2 separate regions of the Homo sapiens genome follow, and region 2 is linked to region 1. The links come from fine-mapping of genetic effects on gene expression. Tissue or cell type: whole blood. Region 1 holds a variant in brackets; the other region holds the start of a gene. All regions are shown on one strand. Distances are from middle to middle.

Region 1 (8,099 bases):
ATATTCGTTCGGGTGTCTCTGTAAGACAGACTCCTGGAAGTGGGATTACTGGGTCAAAGGTAGCTAGTAAAGCACGACGGGCCTTGCCAGCCCAGTGTGCTCCCCACCAGACCCAGGATCTAGCCCCAAGTCTGAGTGATGCAGAATTCACGCCCTCACCTCTGTGCCATCCTGCCTCCTTCAGCAGTAGGGCTGGAGCGCATGGTGAGGGGCCAGTTCTACTTTCTGCCTCAGTCAGGATCGGTCCACTTGAGCGTGATATGTGGGGGCCGAGCCGGGAGGCGTTGGAGCTAGCCGAGGAGATGAGGCCAGCCCCCAAACACTTCCAGAACACTCTGAGCCTTCATGAAGGCTGCAGGAGGGAGCATGGCCTCTTGCCCACATTCTCCCCACCTGGGATCTTCTCTCTGGCGGCTGCCTCTGCCTCCCCATCAGCGCCAGAGCAGGACTGGCAGTGGCACCCCAGGCACCAGTGAGCAGGCTACAGGGTCCGTCCCCACCTAGGGCTGCATGGTCAGACCCCTTGAAGAGGGAATGGCAGAACCTCAAGACCTTGGGTGGAGGGCAGCCCAGGAGAGCCAGCCCCAGGCCATGCCATGGCTCCGTGGCTCATGTGGGCAGCCCCCCACTGGCCCTCACAGAGGCAGAGCTGAGTCAGCAGCCAGGGTCGGGGTGCCTCTGAGGCCCAGGCCTACTTCACTGGGAGGTGTCCCTGCACAGAAGTGAGAGGGCTCAGGAGGGGCCTGGCTCTCTGCCTCTGCTGCTTCAGGAAAAGTCCTGCTCCTTGGCTGAGCCCTCAGGGTCCTTCTCCAGCCCCCTGCCCACCGCCTGCCCTCCGGTCTCCTACACCCCCTCACACTCCAGTCAGTCATGTGGAAATGCTTGCAGTTCTCCACATGGGTTATTCCACTGCCTGCCTCCACGCCTCTGACCACGCAGCTCCTTCTTTTCCAGCTAACTCCCACTTGTCCGCAAAGACAATTCAAGAGTCCCTTGGAGCAGCCTGTTCGCACCTATGCACTCACACAGCACCTTGTTTGTTTAGACCCGCCCAGTGCCTCACAGCAACCCCATCTGGGTTCACTGTCAGAGCTCTGAGCCCACGGGGCTACTCGTCCCAAAGGCATACAGCATGTCCCAACATCTGACTTCGAAGCTGGGACAGGCCTGGCTCCGGGAGGGACAGAGGCTTCTACCTGGGGTAGCTGAGCTGTCCAAAGAAGTTTCAGCCATGTCGAGCCCCTGGCGTTGCCGAAATCCCCCACCCCACGGTGCCACAGCACCAGGGCAGCCCCTAGGAAAAGCCAGCCCCTCAGAGGCCCTGTGCTAAAGACCAGAAATTGCCCCTGGGTCTCCGCAGGAGTTCTGCAATGGGGAAGTGAGCCCTCCTGAGGCCTGGCTGGCAGGAGGCTCTTCAAGGCCAGCATCATGTGGACTTCCCCCAACCACTCGCGTTTCTGCACAGCAGCCACGGAGACCTGGGGGCTGCTGAAAAACGAGATCAGAAGGCAACGTCAGCCTGAGTGGGCTGAAACCTGAGATGAGGAAATGAGAAGACGTCAGGGGGCTGGAGGACATGGGTTTGAGGACAGCCAGCACCCAGCACTGCAGCTGAGGCCTCCTGAGGGAGCCAGAGGGAAAGCAAGTCCCCTCCCTGCGGCCTGAGTCTCTGCCAGTGCCCAGCACTCCCAAAGGATCCACCCCAACCTGAGAGACCCCAAAGACATTGGAGCAGCCCCAGACACCTCCTCCCAGGGCCACAAAGGCCCCTGACAAGCCCACAGCAGTCCAAGGCCTCCAACTGGAGTCATCTTTGGTAAATCTGGGGCCCATCAGCACCCACTGCCCTTCCTGGTGCCCTAAGCATGCTGGCAGGGGGACTGGAAACTGCATCCCAGTTTGCAGTGGGTGTATGTCTCATACACCCACAATACCTGATGTGGGCGTGACTCACCTTGGGGACCTGTGAGTCAATAAGGGTGTATGAGTAAGGGGCAGAGCATTTCAACTTAGTCCCATAGCACATGAGCTCACTAAGCAAACATTACCTATGTCTAGATTTGGGGCCAGTCACTACCCACTGGAGGCTGTGGGCTCCAAGGTATGGCAGCAGGGGAGGCCAGCCAGGCTCTGCCCAGCTTGCCCCTCCTTGTGAGGACGGACCCAGCCAGGCCTCCCGCATCCGCCCTTAGACTGGGGGACCCTGGGTGGGGGTAGAAAGGGGGACTGAAAGTGGTGTCTGGAGTTAAGCCCATCTCCTCATCCCCCACCATGGGGATCAAGATGGGGGCTAAGAGTCACCCCACCACCACCCCAACCCACTCTGAACGCAAAACAGAAGGGGACAAGCAAAACAGAACTGAAACTGGGCAAAGGAGAAACAGGTCTGGGCCCGCCCCAGGGACCTCTGTATCTCACCCCTTACCCATACACATCCTGACCAGGGCCTCTCCCCCAGCCTGGGAAAACCTTTCAAGCTTGGCCCTCTCTCACCTGGGCTCTCTCAGCCTCCTGCCCTCCCCCATCTTCCCTGCTCCCAGCCTCATGCTGCCCCAGGCCTCACCCCATCAGAGCTAAAAGGACCCCAGGCTGGGCATCTGTAGATCAGGGATCTGGTCTCCCTCTGCCACTACCTTTTGGGATGACCTTTGGGAAGTCATTCCCTTCTCTGAGCCACAGTTTCCTCATCTGGCCTGGGCTGTGGGCATAGAATCTGCAGGTGAGGGCTCTAATGGGTGAGTTTCAGGCCAGGCTGAGACTTTTCACATTATAACACTGAGGCACCCAGCACCTTGACTACCACTCATCCTGGGGACTTGGGAAGGGACAGAGGCTGGGATTGGACAGTAACAGCCAAGACCTTCCCAGGGCACAAACGCTGCCTCCCTGAAGCCTGCCCTGACTGTCCATGCAGGTCACTCCCATCACTTCACCTCCTCCTTCCCTCCACTCAGCACCAGCCACCACTGGGTCACATCTATGTCCCTTTGGCTCTGCAAGAGCAGCCTGGACCCCTGCATCCCCTACCCCAGCACAGGCCTGACACCAAGCAGGGGCTCAACAAAATATGTGTTGAAGGCCAGGCACAGTGACTCATGTCTGAAATCTCAGCACTTTGGGAGGCCAAGGCCAACAGATCTCTTGAGTTCAGGAGTTCGAGACCAGCCTCGGTAATGTGGTGAAACCTCATCTCCACAAAAGATACACAAAATTATCTGGGTGTGGTGGCATGCACCTGCAGTCCCAGCTGCGCGGGAGGCTGATGTGGGAGGATTGCTTGAGACCAGGAGACGGAGATTGCAGTGAGCCAAAATTGCACCACTGTATTCCAGCCTGGGTGACAGAGCAAGACCCTGTCTCAATGTCTCTCTCTCTCTCTCTCTCTGTGTGTGTGTGTGTGTGTGTGTGTGTGTGTGTTGAAAGAATAAAGGCAGAGAAAATAACAAGTGTTGGTGAGACTGTGGCAAGATTAGAGCCCTCACACTCTGATGGCGGGGATGTAAAATGGTATCACCTCTGTGGAAAGCAGTTTGTCAGTTGCCCAAAACGTTGAACACAGAGTTACCATGGGATTCTGCAGTCCCACTCCCAGGTAAATAGATGTTCCAAAGAGTTGAAAACATCTGATCACACAAAAACTTGTACACAAATATTCATACAGCGTTATTCTGGATATTATTATAACAGCCGAAAAGTGGGAACAATGTCCATGTCCATCAACTGAGGCACAGATAAGCAACATGGCCTAGCCACACAATGAGCTCTCATTCAGCAGTGAGAAGATGGGGCGTCCTGGTTCAGGCTACCACATGATAACCCCTGAAAACAGTATGCTAAGTGAAAGAAGTCAGACACAAAAGGTGACATGTACAATTCCATTTATATGAAATGCCTAGAAGCTGGATGCAGTGGCTCACGCCTGTAGTCCCAACTATTTGGGAGGCCCAGGCAGGAGGATTACTTGAGCCCAGGAGTTTGAATCCAGCCTGGAAAACATAGCGCGACCTCATCTCTGAATAAATTATTTAATTTAATTTTTTAAAAAATGTCCAGAAGAGACAAATGCATAGAGACAGAAAGTACATTAGTTGGGGGACAAGGAAAGGGGAAGTAACTGCTAACAGGCACGAGGTTTCTTGGGGGTGATGGAATGTTCCAGAGTTAGCTAGAGGTAGGTGTCATAGAGCATTATGAATATACTCAAAACCACTGCAATGTGCATTTTGAAATGGCAAAATTTGTGTTATATGAACCTTTACTCAATAAATACATAAATAAATAAATAATAAATAAATAAATAAATAAATAAATAAATAAAAAGGCAACAACAGCCACCCCAGGGACAGGTTTGGAAAGCCAAACTTGTCTGACTGGCTGGGTGGCTTGTCTATTTGTGTGTTTCTTAAAACAGCATCCTACAGGAGAACTATTCTTTGCTCAGGGAAACCCCCACCCCCTCACTCCACTCCTACCTCGAGACAAGGCCTCTGAGGAGCAGATGGGAGGAGAGGGGCTCTGGGGAAACATAGGGGGCATTGCAGTGGGGTGCTGCCCTCTCCTTGGGCAGGTGCCCCCATGATGAGCAGACTCAAGGTCCAGCTACAGTCCCAGCTCTGGTACAGGTCCTGTCCCTTTCCTCAGTTTCCCCATCTGCAGTCTGCCTCCCGGGGTCTTTCTGAGGTCAGTATGTAGCATGACAGAGCCTGAGAACTGCCAAACTGCCATGTTCTCTCAGAGACCCCTTTTTGGCATGCATTCCAGATGTGGGACCAGAGGTTGGGAAGTTCTTCCTTTGGTCTGACCACAGTATTCCACTTGGAGACAGCAGTGGGAAGAGGCCTTCCACTGAGTCACCCTGACTCAACTTTCATCAGCTTCAGGCCCCCCGTGGGGGTCCTTCCCC[C/A]ACCGGATGCTCACTTTGCTGTAATGGGGCAGGATGTGGGTTCCCTGCTGTGGGAGAGCAGCCCCCACAGCAGCTGCTCCCTAAGATGGTTCTGGCAGGAACCAATGAGAGGAGAAAGCTGATCCTCAACCCCTGCAGGGGCCCTGCAGCCCAAGCAGAGGGCCTCTCAGCCCACCTCGGTCCCAAGTAGGACAGATTGACAGGTGACCTCCCTGTCTCAGAGCCTCAGGGTGTCTTGGAACAAGTGATCCCATCATCTTCCTCTGAGGTCCAAGACTCGGGTGCTAATGGACTCTGTGTAGGGAACCCTGGTCACTGGGGCAGACTCTGTCCCAGACCTGATCTTTGCCATTTTGCCAGAGTGGCCCACCTGACTGCTTCTCTCTGCTGTGTGTATCACTTGTATTAACCGCGAACCCAGCAAAGAGAGCAGGAGCTTGGGCCGGGCACAGTGGCTCACACATGTAATCCCAGCATTCTGGGAGGCTGAAGCAGGTGGATGACTTGAGGTCAGGAGTTTGAGACAAGCCTGGTCAACATGGTGAAACCCCGTATCTACTAAAAATTAAAAAAAAAAAAAAATTAACCAGGCGTGGTGTAATCCCAGCTACTCAAGAGGCTGAGGCAAGAGAATCACTCGAACTCGGGAGGCAGAGGTTGCAGTGAGTCAAGATCGTGCCACCGCACTCCAGCCTAGGCAACAGAACAAGATCCTATCTCAAAAAAAAAAAAAAAAAGTAAAAGTAGAACCCCTGTTTCTTGAGGACAAAGATTAGATGCATCTTTTTGTTGTGAAATTTTGGTAAACTACTTACTCTTTCTCAGCCTCAGTTCTTTGAACTATGAAATGGAGACAATAGTAATAGTATCAACCTCAAAGGGCTGGTGAGAAAACTAACCAAGACAATTCACACAAAGTTTCAGAACAGTCCCGGGCAGGTGCGTGACTTACGCATTTGGCTTTTGTTCACCACTATTACTACTTGCTTATTGAAGCTGAGCCAGGTGGCTGAGCAATGTCCCTTTCTGGCAAGGAGGGTGGAGGCAAGTGTCACATTTCAGAAAGATCCCTGGGCTCCTGTTGAATCTGTCCCCACACCAAAACATGCCCGTGGGGGCTCTAGCTCCTGCCCCAGCAGCGAAAGGGGCTCCTCCTTCTCTGGTGCCCAGTCCTAGCTCACCTGCTCTTCACAAGCCTCCTCCCAGCACAGCCTGCACCACACAGGTGCTCAGTAAGGGGGTTGCTCTGAACAGGGAGCAGGCCCACATGCTGAGAGTGGTGGAGGCGTGCAGGCTCTGATGACCACCTGAACCCAGACTCCAGGGCAGGACAGGTCCTTACAGACCGTAAGGGCTTCCTGCCTACCCTCTTCCCATGCAGTTACCTCAACCCTGGGACACCAGGAAGGTTGAGCATTCCAGGAAAGCCCCGACCCACCCAGGAAACCCAAGTACCTGGTGGGGCCTCATCTGGCCCATTGTCCTGAAAGGACAGGAATAAAGGCTCTCTCCTCATGGCCACACACCCTAGGGACGTCCAGCCTCCAGCTTTCTGTGGGTGGGGCAAATGACTGAGGAGGCTTCCCTCCCTGCAGGCGCCTCCCTCTGGGGCCTCCTGTGGTCCAGTCGTCCCTGGTCCCCAGCTCTCAGGTGGGTCATAGGGCATCTCAGCAGGACCACCAGGAAGAGCATCAGGAGGGGAAGGAGCCAGAGAGCCCTCCAGGCCAGTGCACTGCTAACTCAACATCTCATCTTCCTATCTCGTCCCTTCTGCTCACCTCCGGAGACTCCCCCTCCCCTCTCATGCTCTTCACTGGCAGGTTATGATGGCCCAGAGATCCCCACCAGAGTCCCAGATATCAGTGGGGATCCCAGCCTATTCCTCCAAGCTCCCAGTTGCCAGTGACAGGGAGGCAGAAACAGCCTGGAAATTAACTGTGGGTTCTCCCTGAGCCTGTGGATACATGGAAAGAGAGCTTCACCACCACCCCCTTCTCTGAATATACATACAGGATCTGAGGAGGGAGGATTCTGTGTGGATGCATGTGTGCACAGATGTGCATGTTTGTACGTGTGTATGGGTGAGCAGGTCATACGTGTGGTCCCATGTGCCCACCTGTTGTATATATGCATGCTTGTTTTGTGTAAGTGAGCATAAGAGGTCAAGCCAGAGAGAGAAATAGGAACAAGGAGAGACAGAGAGAGAGAGAATAGAAACAGAGACCAACAGGGAAACAGAATGAGACTGAGACAGAGAACAACAGAAGGCCAGACAGGTAGACAAGCCACAGTTCCATCTTCCCTGGTGCTGGCTGCCAAGGCAGACAACTCTCCTCTCACTTCATTGATGTTCTGCCTGTGTTTATACCCATGATTGGGGTGGAGTTCAGGAAAGGATGTATCAGGGCTAGGACGCCCCCACCTCCACACTCACAGGGCCAGTCAGGGCCCTCTGCAGGGGCTGCCATTTCCTCAAGCTGAGGAATGGGCTTGGATCCCTCGGATGCCTTCCAGGGTGCAGGGGCGCTCCCAGTGACTGGGCTCTTGTGGTGGCTGGGGAGGGGGAGCTCCTCTGACAGGCCCCATGCTGGGGGAAACGTCCTGAGACTGACCTATCACGGGCTGACATGCACACCAAGGAGGTCTCACATCTGCTGGGAAATGAGGGGCTGGTGGAGGTGAGAAAACCTCAAGTTCTAATGCCTTCCCAACACCTTCACCTCACCTGAGAAGCTTCTAGATTCCACCCACCCCTGTTTCCTTGGGGGAGGGTGTTGTGTGGAGGTGGGAAGAGGCAGGAGTCCAGGTTCTAGGCCAGGCTCTGAAGGGGCAGGTAGCTCAGAGCAAGAGGCTGGCCTTGCACCTGCTCTGCCTAATGGGACAGTAATGCCCACGATGGCATTCCGCCTCTGAGGGCTGTGGTGAGGCTGTGGAGAGATGTCAGGGACAAGAAAAGGCCTTGGAAACCAGCTGTGGGAAGAACAGCCCATGAGCTCAGCATTTCCCCTGGCTTCCCCGAAAGCCGGCCCCCAGGAGAGGAAGGTGACTGTGACTTCTGCCGCCACCACTTCCTGCAGCTGGGACCCTGCTCACTCAGAATGTGGAACCGTCATGGGCCAGCAGTGTCACCTGCACACTCACTCCTGCCACCAGGAAACCCTTCTGCAGGGCAGGTCCCCAAGCCCCGTATCTCAGG
Region 2 (8,099 bases), 36 kb after region 1:
AAACTCCCCCTCTCCTCCGGGGAATTGCCCCCCCACCATGAGACTCTGTGGAGGGAGTTCACCTTGAAGGTGATGAACACATCTAAGTCCCCAAGGGGGCAAGGATTTCCACTGGAAATGCTGATGCTTGGGAAGCCCCAGATGTGACCTCATCCCCTGGAGGAGGTAACAACAACCTCCTGCCCTGGGGAGCAGCCCCAGAATGGCTCCCCAGCAGCCACCAAGTCAACAATAACATCCCGTTGTTTCACTGGACAAAAGCGAGGGAGGGCAGAACCAGCCGGGCAGGTTGAGACTGGGGATATGGGTTCTGTTTCCCCATGGACAGGCTGGTTCACCTCTGACCTTGGGGTTCCAAGCCTTCTTTAGCTCCTCCAACCACTGATAAAATGGAAGAGGGGTGCACAGCTTACAAACGCATGCCAACCTCCTGCTAAGCCCCAGCCCTCACCTGCAATCTACTCCCTTACAGTTCCTGCTTACAGGAAGATCAGGACCACACATGCACATCCTTGACTGGCCCATGTGTCAGTGACAGCCCTTGGGGGACAATCCCTACAGCCTTTCTTGCTCTGGCAGGCTCTAAGGGTCAAAGACAAGTGTGGAGCTCAAGGACACCCAGCAGGTACATGATGGCCCATCTCTCTCCCTGGCCTGAGCTACGCTGTGCCAGACTTTCATCAAGCTGCAGAGGCAGCAATCTCCCTGATCAGTGCAGGCTGGGCCCCTCTCAGAGTTCCCTGCTTTAATCTTTCTCTAGAACTTGGGGATCCAAGCAGCAGAAAATAAAGAACTTTCCATACCTATTCCAGTCCCCACAGCTGTCCTGACTCAAAACTAAAACCCCCATCTATGCCTCATAGAGAAATGGCTCCAGAACCACCACCATCCCTGATTTTGTCATTCCTGGATACCACCATACTCCCACCCACCACTGGTAGACAGAGCTCTAGGCTTCCAGAAAGACCCCCTCTTACCCTGTTCCTGGGTTTGTCCTACCCAAGCCCATTCCTGTCCGATTGCCATGTGTCACCCCACAGGAGACAGGAGGCAGCTGTCAGTCGGGCACACCATCACCAGCTGGTGGCCCTGGGGGTGGGGGGCAGGTGAATGGCAGGGCCTGTCTGGCCAGTGGGGCACCTGGCACTGGTGAAGGAGACCACAGACTGTCGTTGGACAAGACTGGTGAACGGTTGGCAGACCCCAGCCAGCGGGGCTCAACAGTGCATTACTAAGCAGAGGGCACAGCCAGTGTGGCTACAGCAGTGAACTGCGGGCGGGGGGGTAGGCCATGGAGCTGTGCTGGGAGCTTCGAAAAGTGGGTAAGAGGACTGAAAGCAACTTTAAATAGCCTCAGGGTGGGAACTAAGTGCCCAGGATGGGATGTATGCATTAAGTGCTAAGAAGTGGGTGTGCATTAAGTGGGGTGGGGGTGGGGGGTCATGGGAAGACTTTGGGACAGGCAAACAGAGTCAAAATGCAAGGGGTTTGATGGAGGGAAAGATTCCAGAACACTCAGATGTGGCCATTTGTCCCCTCCAGAGTGCCCACACGCTATGATGTCCAAGACAGCCAAGGAGACTGAGGGAAGGCAAAGCTGCTGGGAGGGCAAAGGAAGCTTGGGCTGGAGCTGGGATGGCAGAGGGGTGTGCAGGCCTCCTCCATGTACAGGCGGCCGGAGCTCTAGCAGCACTGCTCGGCTTCCTCCAGGAGCACCTCAGGCTGGGTAGCCGAGCTGGTCCCCAGAGCACCTCATTCATGGTCCCTGAACCACCTAAATCCTTCTCCCCTCCCTAACCCAGAACCTGGACTGGTCCTGTGCCAGATCAGAGCCCCTGCCTGCACCTGGGCTCCCACACTGCTCAGTGACCTTGGGCAAGTCACATTCCCTCAGCTACTGCGGCAGTTCGGGCCACTCGTTTTGTGTATGGTTTTTTTTCCCCTCTGCTAATAATACCTGCCCCAGATAATGCTCAGACTCCCGCAATCCCTGCAAACTGCCAAAGGCATCAAAAGGCTCCCGGTGGGGCCAGACCCGACCAGTTCCCCCAGCCCCCACTGCGAGTCCCCCACCATCACGACAGGGGGGCCGCAGACACGCCAAATTTGGGGACAGAGCCGAATCGGACTGGGGGCGGGGAGGCATTTGTGTGCAATGCAGGGGAGGGGAGATCAGTTCCTCGCGGCAGAAAGCCTCAAACCCCCGCCTAACCGGCTTTCTGTCCCATAGTACAGGGTCTAAACTGAGGTGCCCTGGGGGAGACTCCAGTCCCCCAGGTTCTTATTATCTACCCTGGCCTAAAGGCTGCACCCCCGCCCTAGATCCACCGCCTGGGGGTCCCAACGGCCGTGCCCCACCCAACGGGCACTGCCCCCCAACGCTGGAGCCGATTTCTGGTGACAACTGCCACGTGCGGGCAAGGGGGGAGCGGCCGGTCCCGGCATTGCTGAGGCAGCGCCCTGGTACCCCAAGCCGCCGCACCGCACCATGTCCCGCCGCTCGCTGCAGGATGCCCACCCCCTTGCCTGGCCCGAGCTCCGGGCCGGGGCGGGGGCGGGGGCAGGCGGCGGGGTCTTTGTTCCCGCTGCCGAAGCGCGGCGGCGGCGGCAAGGGGTCCGCGCCCCCCTTGCCGGCCCAGCCTGCGCCCCGCGCGCCAGCAGAGCCCGCAGCTCAAAAGGAGGGTACCCGGGTTGGGGTCCCAGGCGGGGAAAGGTCCTCCGCCGAAGCCCCCGAGCCAGAGGACCCAGAGTGGCTCGGGGCCGAGAGAGGGGCCCGCCCCCTCCCCTGGCGCCCGGGCGTTGCGGCTCCTGGCTGCCAGGGACTTGGTGCGACTTAGCCGGGGCTCCGGCCCCCGCCGCTCGCTCGCCGCAGCGTTACAGCCGGCTCTGGTGTGCCAGCGTGTACACTCACACACACTCACCCAAACCCACACGCTCCACGCGGGGACAGCGCGGGGACAGCCCGGGACCCGCAGAGCTGCGCGCACGCACTCCCTCCGGGTGCAGCACACTCCGCACCCGCCCCGCGCAGCGTCTGATCCCGCGCCTGACCGGCCGCGCGGCGCCGCCTACCTTTCCAGACGGCGAAGATGCGGGGTCCGCTCCTTAGGTGGCCCTGGGCGGAGGCGGCGGCCGCCCAGAGCAGCAGCAGCAGCCGCAGCCGCAGCGGAAGCCCCAACCGAGCCGGCGGGCCAGGGACGCGGGCGCGCGGTGCGCTGGGGGCGGCACGTCCGGGCGGAGGAGGCGTCATCCCGTGGCCCCGGGAGCGACAGCGGCAATCAGCCGAGACTGAGCCAGCGCCCGGCCGCAGGCAGACCCAAGCGCCAGGAGGCGGAGCCAGCGCTGACCCCACCCCGCCCCTCCCCCCGCCCCTCGCAGCCTTTTCTCGCCTCACTGGCTTTCCTGAGCGAGAGCGGAACTGCTGGGGGAACCTTCGCCACCCTCTCCCGGGCAACTCTACGGGGAAAGCCCAGCTGCGGACAAGCCAGACTTGTGGTCTTCTGCCAGGGGCGGCAGGCCCTATCCCCTCTCTGGGCCTCAGTTCCACTCCCCGCACCCCGTAAAAAGATTGGCGTAGAAGTCGTGGAGGACCTCTCTCCAAGGGCGCAGAGGAGTCCAACACCCAACAACCTTGCTATGGCCAGCTAAGTGGTTCGCACCCTGAGGACTATGGTCCTCGGAGGATGCGTTCGCCTAAGTGGACACGGCTCCCTGCTGAGCCTACCAGCAGGCACAACGATGATATGTGGGGAGCACTCAGGGACCCGCTGTTGCTTTGCCTGGGAGAACACTGGAAATTTTTCATCTTGGCCTGGCTCCTTCCCCTCCCTCTCCTTTCTCCTCCCTTTCCCAGCCAGCAGCCTTCTGGGCTGCCTCCCCCCAAGCCAGCTGGTGTACGCTCAGAAAATCCAAACTCATTTCCATGTGAGTGGAGGGGGATATAATTAGGAAGGCCCCTTCCCCAAGTAGAGAGGGGAGCATCCCCCGTGCCCCACTCACTGTGGGGGAGGGAGGGTCAAAGCAGCTTAAGGGGATCTCTGCCCGCAAAGTGCCTAGGGCTCAGCTATCTCAGGCAACCTGACCATTCAGTGGGGACTCCCTTGGGGGGTCCAGGCCCAGACCCTCTGCAGTTACCTGAGCAGTCCAGCCAGCTCTGCCATCAGCTCCTCCTCTCAGAACTACGTGCCTGCCCTTTGTAAAAGGGTCTCCTCTCTCTAGACCAGACAGGGCCCAGACCTACCACTTCCACTTGTGCCCCAGGGAACCATGAATGGAAAATCCACCCAGCTCAGTAAGTACTTATCTAGTGTTTACTGGATGTCTAGCTGCACTGAGAGGAGACAGGCCGAGGAAGGAGTAGAGGTGAACATCCAACCTTCAGAACTCACAGACCTAGACACGATTCACGCACTGCAGACACCAGCAAAGGCGGTGGGCTGGCTGCCCTCTGCCCTCTGCCCTGCTCCATGGGGCCAGGACCATTTGGTTGTTGTTTTTACCTCCTGGAACCAGGAAAGTTTTGCTACCAAGAAGTTTGGCTTTACCATTCTACATTTTGCTTCCAGTTGTCCCCTCCTTCTTCCCTCAGAGTCCTGAGGCACCCCAGCAGGCCAGGAAGGTAAACTCAAGGTACCTCCAGAGACAGTGCAGAGTGAGGTTCCTGGCCCACTGGGTGAAGCCAACAGCCTCCTGATACACAGGGGCACACTGCCCCAGAGAGGGAGGCTGTGGACAGTCTAAGAGCTCCTCCTCAGGCCTGCACCTAAGCCTGTGGCCCTGAAGCCAGCAGTGGAGCCTGGCCCAGGCCAGCCTCTAAGATGGACATTCGGTTTCACCTGCTAGACAGGTATTGCCCTCAGTGTCTGTCCTCTCTATGCAAAGCTAGGGCAAACTAAGAAATCACCTGTCTCTGCCTTTTGGAACTAAGAATTCAAATGGATTCAAAATCAATGATAACACTGCCCATGTGCATGGCAACTCACAACACATAACCCACATTCACCTACCTCATCTCTGCCAGTCCTCCACTCTCTTCCTCTCACTGAGGGAGGGAGCGTAACTCCACTGCAGAGAAGAAAACTGAGGTACAGGGAGGGACAAGGACGGACCTGCCCGAGGTCAACCGGTAAATGGTAGAACGAAGATGGGTTTTCTGACTGCAATAACAATTGCTAACACTGTGGTTCCTATGTGCTGTGCCATCTCATAGCCTCTCCCAACTCATTCAATCTTCGCACTCCTATGAGATAGGAGCTATTAGTCACCTCCCTTTACAAATGAAGAAATCAAGGCACAGACAAGGGATGTGAAGTGCCAGGATCGCACAACTAGAGGCAGGACGGATTGAAACTCAGGTGGTTTCTCAAGGACCCACACCCTTGACTTCTCTCTGTGTGATGTACCCTGGCACTGCTGCCTCCTGTCTGTGGCTGAAGTCTGGGTCCAAACCATCCCCAGAAGGACCTAGATAGGGCCCAGGTCACCAGGTGCTGAGTAGGAGGGCAGACCAGGGAATGGGCTCAATCTCCCAATCAACAGAGTAGCAGATGGAAACTGGGGTAGATGCCAGATAATTTTTTTTCCAGACTGGGGGGTAGGGGGGAAGGAAGTAGTACTTAAGACCATCCTCCCCACAAGCCAGCCAACCTGGGGACAAAGGGCCAGGCGAGATGGCAGCCCACTCTCTCGGTTGGCTGCAGGCAGCCAGGGGAGGAGAGAACTAAGCCCATGACTTGAGGCAATAACTTTATAAAGGGAAAGGCAGCTAGACTGTGGGGCAGGCACTATGACCAGAGTTTAGGCATGGACTTTCCTGCCTCAGGCAGCATAGGAAAATCAAGTCAGAATGGTATAGGTGGTGTCAGAGGCCTGCCTGCCTCATTGGAGGCCAAGGCTGGCTCTTGAGCCTGGACCAAGAACAGGGGCACAATTCCCACTCACAGCCAGTGATGGGAAGTGGACCAGCAGAGGAAGCAACACATGTGGATGCTGACACGTCTGATGGGGAGGCACATTCTTGTCCCTCCCTTCTCCATGATTCCACATTCAGGGGAGGGAGGAAGAAATGATGCAGGGCTTCTATCGATAAGAAAAATACCTTGAGAAGGATCACTTCCTGAGCCCCATGGACAGCTGAGGCACAGCCCAATCCAAGAAGGCTCCTTTTGGAATGAAAGAAATGGATACACACAGACCTGAGATTCATGGTCTTGAAGCAGTGGCAGAAGCCCCGGGCAATCCCCCCAACATTCCAACTAAAGCCTCTCACCTTTCAGGGTCCAACTTAACTCATCCTTCCATTCTCCAGAGTTATCTGACCTCCTCCTCAGCCCTGATTCCATGGCTACACATGGCCTTCACAGGAGTGACCCACCTCAAACAAGAGGCCTGTGGGAGATAGAAGGATTCCGTGAGGAGATAACATATGCAGACGTGAGGTCACCCACACACAGTTCACTTCCTTTCACAGATACGATGATCCAAGAATCCCAATTCTTAGGATTAGAAGTAGCTCTCAGAGGGCATTCAATCCCCAACAGCCCCCTCCATGCTAGATCCCACCCCTTCTTTGAGGCCTCAGAGCTTGGTGGCCATTCAGACCTCCTGGCTACTAACAGCAGCAACAATTCCTATTGCCTACCACCATTACTACCTATTGCAGGGGGCAGAGACTTGGAACTGATGAGAACGAGGGGAGTGGGTGGGCTGGGGTCTGCAGAACCCTGTGCTGTCTATAAGGCAATTTCGACTCAGCTCCAGCCCATGGAACCATGAAGAAGTAAACCCAGTAGTGAAAGGTAGTATGATTTTCAAGAGAAGCTGAAAATTGAGGGCTGGGCACGGTGGCTCATGCCTGTAATCCCAGCACTTTGGGAGGCCAAGGCAGGTGGATCACCTGAGGTCAGGAGTTCAAGATCAGCCTGCACAATATGGTGAAACCCCATCTCTACTAAAAAATACAAAAATTAGCCGGGCATGGTAGCGAGCGCCTGTAATTCCAGCTACTTGGGAGGCTGAGGCAGGAAAATCACTTAAACCCAGGAGGCGGAGGTTGCAGTGAACCAAGATCGCACCACTGCACTCCAGCATGGGACACAAGAGTGAAACTCTGTCTCAAAAAAAAAAAAAAGAAAAGAAAAGAAAAAAGAGGCCAGGGGTGGTGGCTCACGGCTGTAATCCCAGAACTTTGGGAGACCGAGGTGGGTGGATCACAAGGTCAATGATTTCTGTCCTAATCATTCTACATGCATTTTTATCTGACAAGGTCAGGAGTTCGAGACCAGCCTGGCCAAAATGGTGAAACCCCATTTCTACTAAAAATGTAAACATTAGCCGGGCATGGTGGCACGCAACTGTAATCCCAGCTACTTGGGAGGCTGAGGCAGGAGAATCACTTGAACCTGGGAGGTGGAGGTTGCAGTGAGCTGAGATTGCGCCATTGCACTCCAGCCTGGGTGACAGGGCGAGACTCCATCAAAAAAAAGAAAAGAAAATTGACTCTTTGTTGAAACTCTCTCTTTTAAAATATTGGCAAATAATTCAAAAGTTAAGGAGGATGGATATGGGCAAATAAAAACAGGTCTGGGGCCCATATCTGGGACCCCCAACATACCATGTGCCCACTGTGACTATCTCACAGGCACAGGCACGACAGTCACTATACCTGGCCCAACTCTTGGCAGACCATGTCAGGCAAGGAGTGCCAAGAAGACACTTCTCAGGCTGCCCAGGCCATGCCTCACCCTCCCCTCAGTGCTCTGCCTGCCTCCAAACCTCAGCCAGGACATTCCCCTCAAGTGCCTGCCTCTTCCTCCTAGACCAGTTCAGAGATCACCACCTTCCATACATCAGTTCAGCCCACTGTGAATGGAGAACTTCTCAGAACTGCCACCACCTTCTTAGCCCTGAGGGTCGTGCTCCCAGCAGCATCCCATGCCTACATCTCTGCTTTCTATCCTAATCATTCTACGTGCATTTTTATCTGATCAACCCTACCTAAATTGCTAAGATCTAAGTAGGGCCAGCCAAGTTAAGTAAGACAAAGGAAAAATCCAAAGAGGAATATTCAGTCAGCAGAGAAGAGACAGATTTTTTTTCCT

The links. PIP is the estimated chance that this variant, and not a neighbour inherited with it, causes the effect.
Region 2: SEMA7A starts here. The variant in region 1 is fine-mapped to the expression of SEMA7A in whole blood (TOPMed, PIP above 0.99). The same link has a PIP of 0.9 or more in blood mononuclear cells and fibroblasts.

Annotation. Positions count from the first base shown.
Region 1 is chr15:74,395,168-74,403,266 of GRCh38, forward strand. No RefSeq gene overlaps it. Among named protein-coding and RNA genes, the nearest start is that of MIR6881, 12 kb to the right of the region's middle. RefSeq lists enhancers at 1,094-1,163, 1,184-1,253, 1,304-1,653, 1,335-2,534, 1,704-1,903 and 9 more and a silencer at 7,800-8,009. The variant C/A (reference allele first, on the strand shown) is at 4,904.
Region 2 is chr15:74,430,669-74,438,767 of GRCh38, forward strand. SEMA7A (semaphorin 7A (JohnMiltonHagen blood group)) reads right to left here and starts at 3,290. Exons shown (of 14, transcript NM_003612.5): 1 at 3,073-3,290. The coding sequence starts at 3,250. RefSeq lists silencers at 2,453-2,572, 2,723-2,872, 2,923-3,432.